4 separate regions of the Homo sapiens genome follow, and all the other regions are reported to be linked to region 1. Evidence: microRNA targets listed by miRTarBase, many of them from high-throughput screens and not tested one by one. Region 1 holds a microRNA gene; each other region holds the end of a gene's coding sequence.
The links. Region 1 holds the annotated microRNA hsa-miR-98-5p (UGAGGUAGUAAGUUGUAUUGUU, at 1,932-1,953, shown strand). A microRNA usually pairs through its seed, bases 2 to 8, with sites in the 3' UTR of a target mRNA and lowers its output. Matches are read on the target gene's strand: a 7mer-m8 pairs with bases 2 to 8, a 7mer-A1 pairs with bases 2 to 7 and ends in A, and an 8mer does both.

Region 2: the mRNA of SEC24B is a reported target of hsa-miR-98-5p. The part of its 3' UTR that is shown has no 7-base or 8-base seed match.
Region 3: miRTarBase lists KCTD5 as a target of hsa-miR-98-5p. The part of its 3' UTR that is shown has no 7-base or 8-base seed match.
Region 4: miRTarBase lists MEIS1 as a target of hsa-miR-98-5p. The part of its 3' UTR that is shown has no 7-base or 8-base seed match.

The regions. Positions count from the first base shown.
Region 1 is chrX:53,555,252-53,558,251 of GRCh38, reverse strand. MIR98 (microRNA 98) reads left to right here and starts at 1,911; the gene lies at 1,911-2,029. HUWE1 (HECT, UBA and WWE domain containing E3 ubiquitin protein ligase 1) reads left to right here. Exons shown (of 84, transcript NM_031407.7): 60 at 825-870. MIRLET7F2 (microRNA let-7f-2) reads left to right here and starts at 978; the gene lies at 978-1,060.
Region 2 is chr4:109,539,233-109,542,389 of GRCh38, forward strand. SEC24B (SEC24 homolog B, COPII component) reads left to right here. Exons shown (of 24, transcript NM_006323.5): 24 at 329-1,664. The coding sequence ends at 443. Among named protein-coding and RNA genes, the nearest start is that of MCUB, 19 kb to the right of the region's middle.
Region 3 is chr16:2,706,913-2,710,069 of GRCh38, forward strand. It overlaps KCTD5 (potassium channel tetramerization domain containing 5), which reads left to right. Exons shown (of 6, transcript NM_018992.4): 6 at 386-2,118. The coding sequence ends at 415. Among named protein-coding and RNA genes, the nearest start is that of PRSS27, 12 kb to the right of the region's middle.
Region 4 is chr2:66,568,830-66,571,986 of GRCh38, forward strand. It overlaps MEIS1 (Meis homeobox 1), which reads left to right. Exons shown (of 13, transcript NM_002398.3): 12 at 221-316; 13 at 2,417-3,157. The coding sequence ends at 279. Among named protein-coding and RNA genes, the nearest start is that of LINC01798, 3.6 kb to the right of the region's middle. RefSeq lists enhancers at 65-2,145, 2,124-3,157.

The DNA of each region.
Region 1 (3,000 bases):
AGATCAGCCTAGGTGTCAGATCAGAGAAAATGTTTGTACTCTGAACCCCATCACCACATGTCATTTTTTCTAGGGCTCACATGTATAAAATCACTAATACAATTTTGGTTTAGAAGGAAGTTACCTACTTTTTTCTGAAACTTCTGGGACCTCAGACAGAGATCTTTTAAATGTCTGAGTAAATGTTGATAGAATTATACATTACAGTGTATCACTTGATATAAAAGGGGGAAAAACTGATAGAAATACAAAGAAATAAGACTTGAGAGTGAAAGACTTTAGTATACCCTACTCAGCAGTTAAGGAATCAGGTAGATTAAAAATAAGGGTAGTGAAGTGTTCAGTTAAAATAACAAGGTTGATCTAACAAATATCTTTATATAGAACTTTTTACCTAATACACACATTGTTTCAAACTTGATATAGGATGAAAAATAAGTGAACCTAGCCTGTGACTGAAAAGACTAGAGTGGACAAAATAAAAAATAAGCCCCATGAAGGGAAAAAATACATAGATGAAACCAAGAAATTCTTGCTAGAATGATCATGATCGTGCCCATCCCTAAGGGGTTTTTATTATCCTTTCCTTCCATATTTATTTCCCCCTCAGCCCCAAACAATTCTTGAACCTGAGTATGTATAGAGAAATTGGTCATATATTTGCACAGTGAAATGATCACCTTCCTTTGGTCACATGGCCAAAGCATTCTCCATTAGATCACTGAACTCCTAGATGGTCTGGGTGGAGGATGGTGACTATTACAGTTGACCTCTATCTTAGGTGCTTGCAAAGTCCCACATTGGTCTATCCCTTCTTTTTGCAGTGTACTGCATCTAAGTCAAATGACTCCACTGAACAGAATCTCTCAGGTAACTCTCCTTCCCTTTCTCCCTTCTTACTAATCAATTGGTTGCTTCTTTATCCTGATAGTTCCGAGTAGCTGGCCCACATAGGCTGAAGATGGACACTGGTGCTCTGTGGGATGAGGTAGTAGATTGTATAGTTTTAGGGTCATACCCCATCTTGGAGATAACTATACAGTCTACTGTCTTTCCCACGGTGGTACACTTCTTCTCCGACTGGCTCTGTTCAGGTTCTTGTTCTGGTTATTATCTACTTTGTTCTGGCATGGGTAATGAGGTCATGTGTCTTGTTCATTTCCTGACTGCAACTCTGTCCTCTGAAACAGCATGTTCATGTACATCTTTGAAGTGGCTGGTCCTTTGATGACCACCATGGTGTGGCACTTCATGAGAATAACTGATGACAGTGGTTCTCAAATGCCAGTCCTCTGTGGAAACGAACAAAATCAAGGAGCTTTAATGCCTTTTTCATAAAGCTGAATTTATTCCATTTAAAAGGCTGTTTTTGTATTTAGAGATCATATTCCTAATTCTGTGGTACCAAAATATTTTTATTAAATGATGTTGATTGGATGTTTTTTCTTACATGGCTAAACTAAAAGTTGGCAACCCCTACATTAGTCTCTACTTTTTGTTCTTTTTTTAATTAAATTTTATTGGTCCATGGAATCTAAAAGTCTAGGAACATTGTCTTGGATAGTGTGCTGTTCATGAAGGTAGCTCTCTGGGCTTAGTGGTATGACTGCCGTATGTTTCCTATTCCCTCTGATCTTCTTAACAATGGTCAGTAGCCATTTTGTGATTCTATCAGTTGGTTCATGTGATATCATATGTCTCCCCCACCCATATTTCCTCAGAACATTCTTCTGCCTCCCTACACCTGTCTCCTTTCGCACTTGAGTTGGAAAATGATTGTACCAAAGCCTGCACAATATTTTTTAAAGCAGTGAAGTAGGGTAGATGCCTTGGTACCCTTAATCTAGCAAAAGATCTTTAAAAGAGTCTGTCACCATGTAAAATGGCCTTTTGCCTGCTGCCCTTATTAGAGGATTCTGCTCATGCCAGGGTGAGGTAGTAAGTTGTATTGTTGTGGGGTAGGGATATTAGGCCCCAATTAGAAGATAACTATACAACTTACTACTTTCCCTGGTGTGTGGCATATTCACACTTAGTCTTAGCAGTGTTGCCTCCATCAGACAAAGTTGTAGATGTTCCTTGGATAATTTGGACTGGAAGAAAAGAGACATGGAAGGGGACAGATGGTGTTTAGGGTGAGGCAGATGTCATTATAAAGTGACTTGTCTTTCATTAATTGGAGCATATAATTATTTTACCTTTGGGCATGAACTCATTTTGCTATTCTTCAACTGTGTAATGATTGCATTTTATTAGTAATAGAACAGGAATGTGTGCAAGGGAATGGAAAGCATACTTTAAGAATTTTGGGCCAGGCGCAGTGGTTCATGCCTGTAATCCCAGCATTTTTGGGAGGCCGAGGCGGGTGGATCACCTGAGGTCAGGAGTTCGAGACCAACCTGGCCAACACGGCGAAACCCCGCCTCTACTCAAAATACAAAAATTAGCCAGGCTTGGTGACACTCGCCTGTGGTCCCAGCTACTCAGGAGGCTGAGGCAGGAGAATTGCTTGAACCCAGGAAGTGGAGGCTTCAGTGAGCTGAGAACACGCCACTGCACTCCAGCCTGGGCAACAGAGCAAGACTCTGTCTCAGGAAAAAAAAAAAAAAAAAAAAGATTTTGAAGGGCTGGACGCAGTGGCTCACGCCTGTAATCCCAGCACTTTGGGAGGCCGAGGTGGGTGGATTGCTAGAGCTTAGGAGTTTGAGACCAGCCTGGGCAACATGGCAAGACCCTGTCTCTACTAAATATACAAAAAATTAGTCAGGTATGGTGGCACATGCCTATAGTCTCAGCTACTTGGGAGGCTGAGGTGGGAAGATCACCTGAGCCCGGGAGGTGAAGGCTGCAGTGAGCCATGATTGTGCCACTACACTCCAGCCTGGGCAACAGTGAGACCCTGTCTCCAAAAAAAACAAATAGAGTTTTGAACGAAATTCTGACCATTTCTTGCTCCAAATAGATGAAGTGGGAGGATCAATAGGATTTTGGTAGTTAGAT
Region 2 (3,157 bases), not on the chromosome of region 1:
ATTACAGGCGTGAGCCACCACGCCCGGCCAATTTTAAAAATTTTTTTTTTTTTTTTAAGCAATGGGGATCTTTCTATCTTGCCCAGGCTGGTCTTAAACTTCTGGGCTCAAGCAGTCCTCCCACCTTAGCCTCTTAAAGTGCTGAGATTACAGGTGTGAGCTGCCAGCCCAGTAATTTTTAAAATATATACTATTTTTAGAAATATGCACTTTTATTTTATTTGTATAAATTTACAGGATACAAGTGTAATTTTATGAGCTAGATTGCAAAGTGGTGAAATCAGGGCTTTTAAATACGTTTAGACAAATGCCCTTTTCTTTCTTCCAGAGATGAGAGTCCTGCCAAAGCAGAATTTTTTCAGCATTTGATTGAAGACCGGACAGAGGCTGCATTTTCTTACTATGAATTTTTGCTTCATGTTCAGCAGCAGATTTGTAAGTGAAGTAGAATAAAATTGAATAAGAAAAAGATCTATAACCTAGGTAAAGCATAATCTGTCAGAGAAGCGCGTGAGAAATTTGAAATGAAGGCATTTGTTAATACAAGATGCAACGCACAGCACTCTGTCTGAGGCTTTGGTAAAAAGTAAAGGGGAAGAAAGAACTTGACAGATCTTTTTCAACTCAAATTAATGGTAACGATGATGCTGTTTCACCAAGTATATTTTGAATTGGTTTCTACACATTTCCAGTAGTATGGCAGTACAGTGCTCTGTTCATTGCAAGCTGGCAAATTTATGTAGCTATGTGGAATGATATGTCATAATGTAAAATTAGATAAATTCTTTTTTCTTATAATTAATATAACATTTCTGGACTTGAACTCTGGCAAGAGATGCCAAAAGGCATTGGTACCGTGTTATTTGTTTATATGAATTACTTTTTAACAAGGAATGTTTCTTATTCATTAAATGAATTCAACATTTTCTCTGTAAAAACAATAGAGTTTCAGTACATGAACTATAGAAAAAAATCTATATATAATGTACATAAATGTTACATTTGTAAAGAAAATGTAAAAATGTAACTATAGCATATGAATTGCTTAAACTGTGCTGCATTGTTGGATGACAACTCTTTTTGTCACAGTTAGAGAATGAGGTTGACTAATGCATATTATGAATTGAGTCCACAAAGGAACACAAAACTCTTTGTAATTCTGTTAAATCTTTTATGTAGATTTATTTATGATCAGCCTACTAATTAAAACTATTTCGCTTGACAGTATGGTTTGGTGATTTTTTGGGGTTTTTGTTTGATTGGTTTTTTGTGGGGATTGGTGGGTTTTTTTACATACAGGATGTATTGAATTTACTAATTGGGGAAGTGCAGTGATACTGCATTTCAGTTAGTAATATATATGAATCAGGCCAGGCGCGGTGGCTCACGCCTGTAATCCCAGCGCTTTGGGAGGCCAAGGTGGGCAGATGACTTGAGGTCAGGTGTTCATGACCTGCCTGACCAACATGATGAAACCCCATCTCTGCTAAAAATACCAAAATTAGCCAGGGGTGCTGGCGGGCACCTGTAATCCCAGCTACTCAGGAGGCTGAAGCAGTAGAATCGCTTGAACCTGGAGGCTGAGGTTGCAGTGAGCTAAGATCACGCCACTGCACTCCAGCCTGGGCAACAGAGTGAGACTCCATCTTAAAAAAAAAAAAAAAGTAATATATATGAATCAATACACTTTCATTAGTCTGTGGACATTACCAAGTACTTATTCTGTTTGTATTCTAAAACAAATGGTGCTACTTTCAAAAATATTCTTAACTAGTAAGTATAATCTTAAATTGTCTTTCTTATTTACATTAGATATTTTTGCCTGCACACTTATAGCAAGAAAATTTTAGTAACACATATCACTATCCCATTTATTTAATTGACTTTAAGATTGCCATCTTGAATTTTGAAAGTGATTTTCTTCTGATCAAGAAACCTCTCATTCACTAACAACTTATTTACTATAAAAAACTCTTAAGGATCCATTAGATTATGGGACATAATTTTATTCTGTACACTATGAAAGTCCCCATCAACAAACTTTGGAAGGAAAAAGACTCTGCCAGGCATGATGGCTCATGCCTATAATCCTAGCACTTTGAGGGACCAAAGCAAGCGGATGGCTTGAGCCCAGAGGTTCGAGACCAGCCTGGGCAACATGGGGGAAACCCTGTCTCTACAAAAATACAAAAAAATTAGCCAGGGATTGTGTGCACCTGTAGTCCCACCTACTCAGGAGGCTAAGGTGGAAGGACATCCTGAGCCGAGGAGGTCAAGGTCGCAATGAGCTCTGACCACACCACCGCACTCAGTCTGGGAGATAGAGTGAAGCCCTGTCTCAAAAAAAAAAAGAAAAAAAAAGAAAAAGGCTTGCTGTGTAGTGGGTTATTTTTACTGTTTTTGTGCTTTCATGGATCTCATTTCTTTGGATAAAAATAAAAGTACTCTCACATTCCCTGCTGGAAATGAGAGGTTAAATGACTCACCCTAAATGACATTACTTACTAATTAGTGTCAATGCTAATAGTAAAAATCCAAATGTTCTCCCTACCCACAACCTACTCCCACCCCACCCCCCACCCACAGGACCATACTTGTCCCTATACCATGCTGCCTCTAGCAAGAGAGAATCTGAACAGTAAGAGAAACTAAGCCAGGCATGGTGGTGCCTTCCTGTAGTCCCACCTATTTGGGAGGCTGAGGCAGAAGAATCACTTGAACCTGGGAGGCAGAGGTTGCAGTGAGCCGAGATTGCACCACTGCACTCCAGCCTGGGCAAGAGCCAGACTTCAACTCAAAAAAAAAGAGAGAGAAACTTTAGTACTCTAAGGGCAACTAAATACTGCAATTTTACCATAAAAAGTATAATTCTTCTTTATAAAAGACAAAAATCTTTTGTCTGGATATTTTGTCTCTCATTCAATAAATATTTGTAAGCATTTAATGCTTGCCAGATATTGTTCCAGGCACAAAGTAAAATCTTCACTTCCACAAAGCTTATACTCTGAAGTGAGAACGTAGAAGACTGGGGAGAGGCAAAAATCATTTTATATAATTTGTAAGTGTGATATATAATTCTATGTAAGTATAGTGAATGTTATGAAGAAAAATAAAGCTCGGAAAGGAGATGGAAAATACTGTTTTTGATAGTGAGCAG
Region 3 (3,157 bases), not on the chromosome of region 1:
GTGGGCATGGAGGAACAGAGGGAGAGACTTAATTGGGGAGGGGGGACTGGACTGCTGAGGGACCCGCGGGCCGAGTTGCGCTTCATGTCTGAGGCCCAGGACTGAGTGGGCTGAGAGGCCCAAGAGTCAGCGCCTTTGGGTGGGTCTGGGAGGGGCTGCCATGCACAGTGAGCGCTCCCTGTGTGGGGCCTGGAGATGTGCCAGACACCCCGGTGAAGGTCCTGGGCCTGCCAGCTGAGTCCCCAAGACCCTGGCCAGTGCCGCTGGGTTCCCGGGGCTCCCCGAGCTAACCCCAGGCCTGTGGGCTCTGTTTTCTGGAGCAGGCGCCTGGTCAGGGACACCTCCTCAGCCCAAGTCCTCATTTTATGCATTTGGTGTTTTTCAGATTTTGCAAGAACGAGGCTCAAGGATGTGAGGGACACAGTATTGACAGCTGAAGAAATGATTTACGTTTTCCCGAGATGTAATGAACTGCCATGTCCAGGAAGCTTGGCTGTGAGAAGAAACCTGCTTTTGATCATTTTTCTAGAGATCTGGGTGTGAATCCTTTTTTGCCTCTGAGGTGGGTGGTGAGAGACGGGCCCAGCTGTCCAAGGCCAGACGTCCCCAAGTTGGGGGAGCACGGCGGCCGGGTGGGCGCTGCCTCTTGGGGGGGCCTCGCTCTGTTTTTTCCAAGTGCCACGTGGGACTGAGGCAGACACTCCCAGTCAGCCCGCTCGATCCTGAAGATCGTGTGAAGGAAGCGTTCTTGGTGCTACACACAGTCTGGAAAAGCAGCCTGGGCTTCACTGGCAGGAAGCGGCCGCAGCCGCGTCAGTGTCCAGCACGTCGTGGCCTCTGGTCCGACCACCAGGCCCTAGTCTCGGTCAGGGAGTCTGCTCTGCCTCCCAGGCGGGATCGCTGGTTTCTCTCGACCTCGCAGAGCTCCTGACAAAGGCGGCTTCTGCGTCGTCACTGCTTCCCGGCGCCATTCCGAGGCCGGGCCTTCTTCTGACACGGGCTCCAACCCCACCTGACCAAGCCCGGGACAGTCAAGGCTTCTCAATTTGTATTTTCCAGGCAAGAGAACTTTGTACCCCTTCTCTGTGTGGATAGACTCCCCAGCGTTTTTCCTCTGGAAATGCCCACAGGGCTTGCCGCGTGGAGACTGATCTGTTCCATCCGTTAGCGCGAGGTAGCAGTGTCGCCTCGCCCCTCCCACTGCGGGCTCACGGGGAGCTGGCGTCTGTCAGTGCCTTGTCACGCCTGGCATAGAGGTTGGGCTGGAGGCCTGTCCACTGGCTTCTGGAGCTGAAGGTCTGCGTCACGGTGAAAATTCGGGATGTTTACAGAGCATCACAAATGCCTCTCTCTCGCCGCTCTCTCATTTTCTTTGTATAACTATGCAGCCTTCCCTCTCTTTCTGGGATGTTTGGGACTTCACTCGACCTGCACGGGCTCTGCCCGACATGCCGTGGGAGCTGCTGGGATTCCTTTAGAAACCGCTGCCCGCATGCTTTGAAAACAGACCTTTCTCAGCTGGCTGTGGGGACCTGTCAGAGTCTGGGGACTCGGCGTGCAGGGCGGGCTCCAAGCGCTTTGCTTCCGGAACTCCGGCTTCCCAAGGGGTACTGTGCAGACTGACCACCGGCCTCCCGCCTGCAGGTCAGAGGCTCTGACACTGTCTGGTTTCCAATGCTTCTGGAGACTTCCTGCCTAGGCCTCATCCTCCTCTTTGCCAGTCACCTGATTAACCAATTCTCCAGCATTAGGACTTACCTCCTTCTTTTTGTAAGGTCTCTTGTATGTTGTTAAATGTTTGGCTTAAACAATTTATAAAAGCCTTTCTAGAAGGCAGACTTAGCCCCAGCAGAGCCTGGGAGGAAGGCGGCCGCTGGGGCTCCTGGGCATCCTCTCTGGGGAGCTGCTGGCCGCTTAGCGTTGTTTGATTTTTGACCTTGACATAGTAGATAGGCTTGTGGTTTTTTTAATTTAAAGATATTAAGACTTAATTCACTAAAATTTATTCTAAGGGGATATTTATACTTTTATACTTTTTTAGGTATCGTATTTTATCAGCTTACAGTTTAATGCCTAAGTTTCCCCTGGAAATAGCAAATAAAATTGTGTATTTATGAATGCGCGTAGTAGCTGTTTATGGTCTTAAGATGCAGGGGAATGCCACCCCGGGTCGCTCGGACCAAGGTGCTGCCCCTCCAAGCCGCCCAGCCCCACTGGCCGCGGCGGCTCACTCAGGGCTCTGCCTCTGCCTCTCAGTCGATGGCCAGGGCGGAGCTGGGCCATCCACGGGGTGCCGGCTTGGCCAGGGTCACTGGATCAGAGCTGCACGGCCCATCCCTGCACCCCACTCTGCCTGGACCCCTCACCTACCTCCAGCAGATAGCATACCCCCATCCCGGGAGACCGGAGACCATGTACAAGGGCCTTTTTTTTTCCTTAAGAGACAGGGGTCTTGCTATGTTGCCCAGGCTGGTCTTGAACTGCTGGGCTCAAGTGATCCTCCTGCCTCAGCCTCCTGAGCAGTTGGGATTACAGGCGTGAGCCATTGCGCGCGGCTCAAGTGATGTTTTTTTGAAAGTCCTGATACCTCAAGTTAGCATCCACCTCTCTTCCCTCACTTTAGCCTGCAGCCTGGGTTGTGACAGCAGGAGCTTCCCGAGAAGGTCCTGGGGTCCCGGCACCCCCTCGCCAGCTGCTGTGACTCCTCCTGGTGGCTGCTCCACGAAGCCTTGGCTGTTGGACTCCCCGCCCCCCCGCAGGGAGATTCCCATTCACGGTGTCCCCCAGGGCCTGGCTGTCTGAGGTCACAGAGCCTCAGGCTGTAGTGGCCTTGTCCATCCTGTTTCCAGGTGTGTGGCTGGCCCAGCCTGACCCCAGGGCCCTGGTGAGGGGTGGAGTGGGTGACTGGGCTTCTGGGTGCCCAGCATGAGGCCGGCACGGGGCTTGGAGTAGGGGAGAGACCCAGTTTCTGCTCCAAGGGGTCTTCCCGCTGCCCGACTCCCACCAGGAGCCTGGCTAGGCCTTACAGCCCCTTGACCAGGTAGAGTTGTGGGCACTTGGGAGAAGCCTCAGCGTGGCAGGCGTCCCCAGCCAAAGCCCGGAGCAGGTTTCCCATCCAAGCAAAAGGCTGTAAAGGAGACAGGCCCTGCAGTTTGGG
Region 4 (3,157 bases), not on the chromosome of region 1:
TCCGCCTCATCCTTTTCTGTTATCTCAAGCTGGCTGCCTTGCCTTGTCTGCTATCTGTGCATCTAAGATATTGCAGAGGGGAAGCCAGGATCTTTATGCACTGAAGATCTCACTATTTCTCAACCCTCTAGATCCTGTTTTTTTTTTAAGGGTCTTTTGGCACTATCTGTTGACTTTGCTCATTTTCTGGCCTCTTCTTGGATTTTTATCTCCCTTCTAGGACCTATGAGTGGAATGGGCATGAATATGGGCATGGAGGGGCAGTGGCACTACATGTAACCTTCATCTAGTTAACCAATCGCAAAGCAAGGGGGAAGTAAGTACAAATGGGGTCTTTGTTTTCACTTTGTCCTAGGAATATTTTTCCTCTTGCATTTTCTTATGTTCTCCTTGCCCATAGCTTCATGCTTGTTCATTCCTTTCCATTAAACTCCTGGTTTCTTGCTTCCATCATTTTCTTTTTGGTTGTGATCAAGCTTTTAAGCTTATAAATACTGTGTATGATGTACATTTATCCTGTGTGTTGCTATTGTACAGTACTGACCACATGACAAAACAAGAAGCAGTCAGGAGGTGGGGGAGTGGGTTGTCATAGCAACAGACTGATTTGCAAAATGTAAGCAGTCTGCAGCAGTGCAAGGAGAGGGAAGAGCATGTCCCCAAAGTGTCATAAATCTGTCTAACCGCAGTTGATGCATGAGTTACATTTCTACACTAACCTGCAAGACACCGAAAAGCTAAACAGAGACTTCTTTTAGGTAAAATAAACACAAGCTTTACTTAGGGTAAGTAAAGGCATATTTTGAGCTCCAGTCAACTAAACTTTGATTTTTTTTCTTAGTTTATTCCTTTGTCTGTCCATCATAATGGGATTACGTGTGGCAATGGGAAAAGGGAGAATACAAAATAGAGGTGTGCACAGCAGGCTGCGGGGCTTAGCCCAGGCTAATTGACTATATCCAAATTAAGTATGCCATCACTTGCAGTGTGACAAATGGATTTGACTTATTCAGTATACAAAAATAGAGATCATTAATGCAATCATCAGTGGCAGGCCTAGTGAAGTGGGCCTAGGAAAACTGTCCCAGATTCTCACTCTTGCATTTTCTCTCCTATAAAGACACTCCAGCAATTCGAGTTCAAACAAGTAAAACTGTTTTGAACACCAAGGCTCTTGTTCACTTCCTAAATTACCCCTAATAGCACTGTTCTTGCTTTGTTTTTGAAATTAAAAGCAGTTATTTCAGAGTCTTGCTTGTGTCTCTGATTATATTTATGCACTATTTAAAATCACTGCTGAGGCCAGGGGTAATTCGTACTGGTCATCTTCTCTGGGTGTGAGTCAAATATAAGTTTAACAATTAGCTCTGAAAACATTCCATTGAGCTGGGGAATGCAACAGTCTTATTACCTCATCATGGAATTCTCTAGCTTAGTTAATTTAAATATTGTTTCTTAGTTTCTGGGTCAATTAAATTTAAATGATGTATTTTATGCTTCGTGACCAATTAAATTACTAGGTTATTACAAAAAAAATTATCATCTTTTTTGATTAAAGAGCTGTGGGTACAGTATATTTTATAAGCAATTTTCATTAGTTCAAAAATGTTCCTTTAGGCTAGATTAAGCAGCCATTCATTGTTAGAGCCTGGAGACCTTATTCGAAGGTGTTCATCGTATTCACAGTGCACTATTACTTAGAACTAAAGCCAATTGAACCTACTTAGCAATAGCGTTATGCCTTTCACCCTTGATGATTATGGAGCTTATAGCTCTCAGAAACAATACACCTGTCAGTTTCCATCAACTATAGCAATCCATGCAGAAGACAAGAGGCCCCCTCAAAGCAGGAGGGGTATTGTTTTAGGTCCAATTTTTCTTATTGTTCTCAAAATCATTATAAGGTGGACAGTGTTTTGTGAAGATTTTCTTTTCCCCAGCTCTAAGAAACCATGTGGAAAGAATTCATTGATAACTGTTTTGATTTTTTTCTTTTTTTAAGTACAGGTTTTGCTAAGTAATCACCCTTAGTGAGCCTGTGTAGTTCAGCTGCCTGTGAGATGTTTGGTGACCAGCTCAGTGTATTCTTGTATTCTTGATAGAGAATATTTCAGGAGACAAAAGTGCTTCTTCAGACCAGACCTCAAATAACAATTTTATTCTTTTTAATAAATAAGACCTCAGTAGGCGGACCTGATAACAGTGACAATGAAAGGAAAATAGTGGCAAAATGTGAGTTTCCAGCATGATGTTTCTCATTTTATTTTCTTCTGTATGAATCAAAAGAATGCTTTACAAAACCATGTTCCCTTAATCACAGGGTTCTCTGGCTTTTATAGGATTGTCATAGCCAGGACCACACTATTGCTTTTTCATAACATTTTCTTTTTGTTTCTTTCTTTTGAATTTCTTACAGGGCTGCAAAGTATGCCAGGGGAGTATGTAGCCCGGGGTGGTCCAATGGGTGTGAGTATGGGACAGCCAAGTTATACCCAACCCCAGATGCCCCCCCATCCTGCTCAGCTGCGTCATGGGCCCCCCATGCATACGTACATTCCTGGACACCCTCACCACCCAACAGTGATGATGCATGGAGGACCGCCCCACCCTGGAATGCCAATGTCAGCATCAAGCCCCACAGTTCTTAATACAGGAGACCCAACAATGAGTGGACAAGTCATGGACATTCATGCTCAGTAGCTTAAGGGAATATGCATTGTCTGCAATGGTGACTGATTTCAAATCATGTTTTTTCTGCAATGACTGTGGAGTTCCATTCTTGGCATCTACTCTGGACCAAGGAGCATCCCTAATTCTTCATAGGGACCTTTAAAAAGCAGGAAATACCAACTGAAGTCAATTTGGGGGACATGCTAAATAACTATATAAGACATTAAGAGAACAAAGAGTGAAATATTGTAAATGCTATTATACTGTTATCCATATTACGTTGTTTCTTATAGATTTTTTAAAAAAAATGTGAAATTTTTCCACACTATGTGTGTTGTTTCCATAGCTCTTCACTTCCTCCAGAAGCCTCCTTACATTAAAAAGCCTTACAGTTATCCTGCAAGGGACAGGAAGGTCTGATTTGCAGGATTTTTAGAGCATTAAAATAACTATCAGGCAGAAGAATCTTTCTTCTCGCCTAGGATTT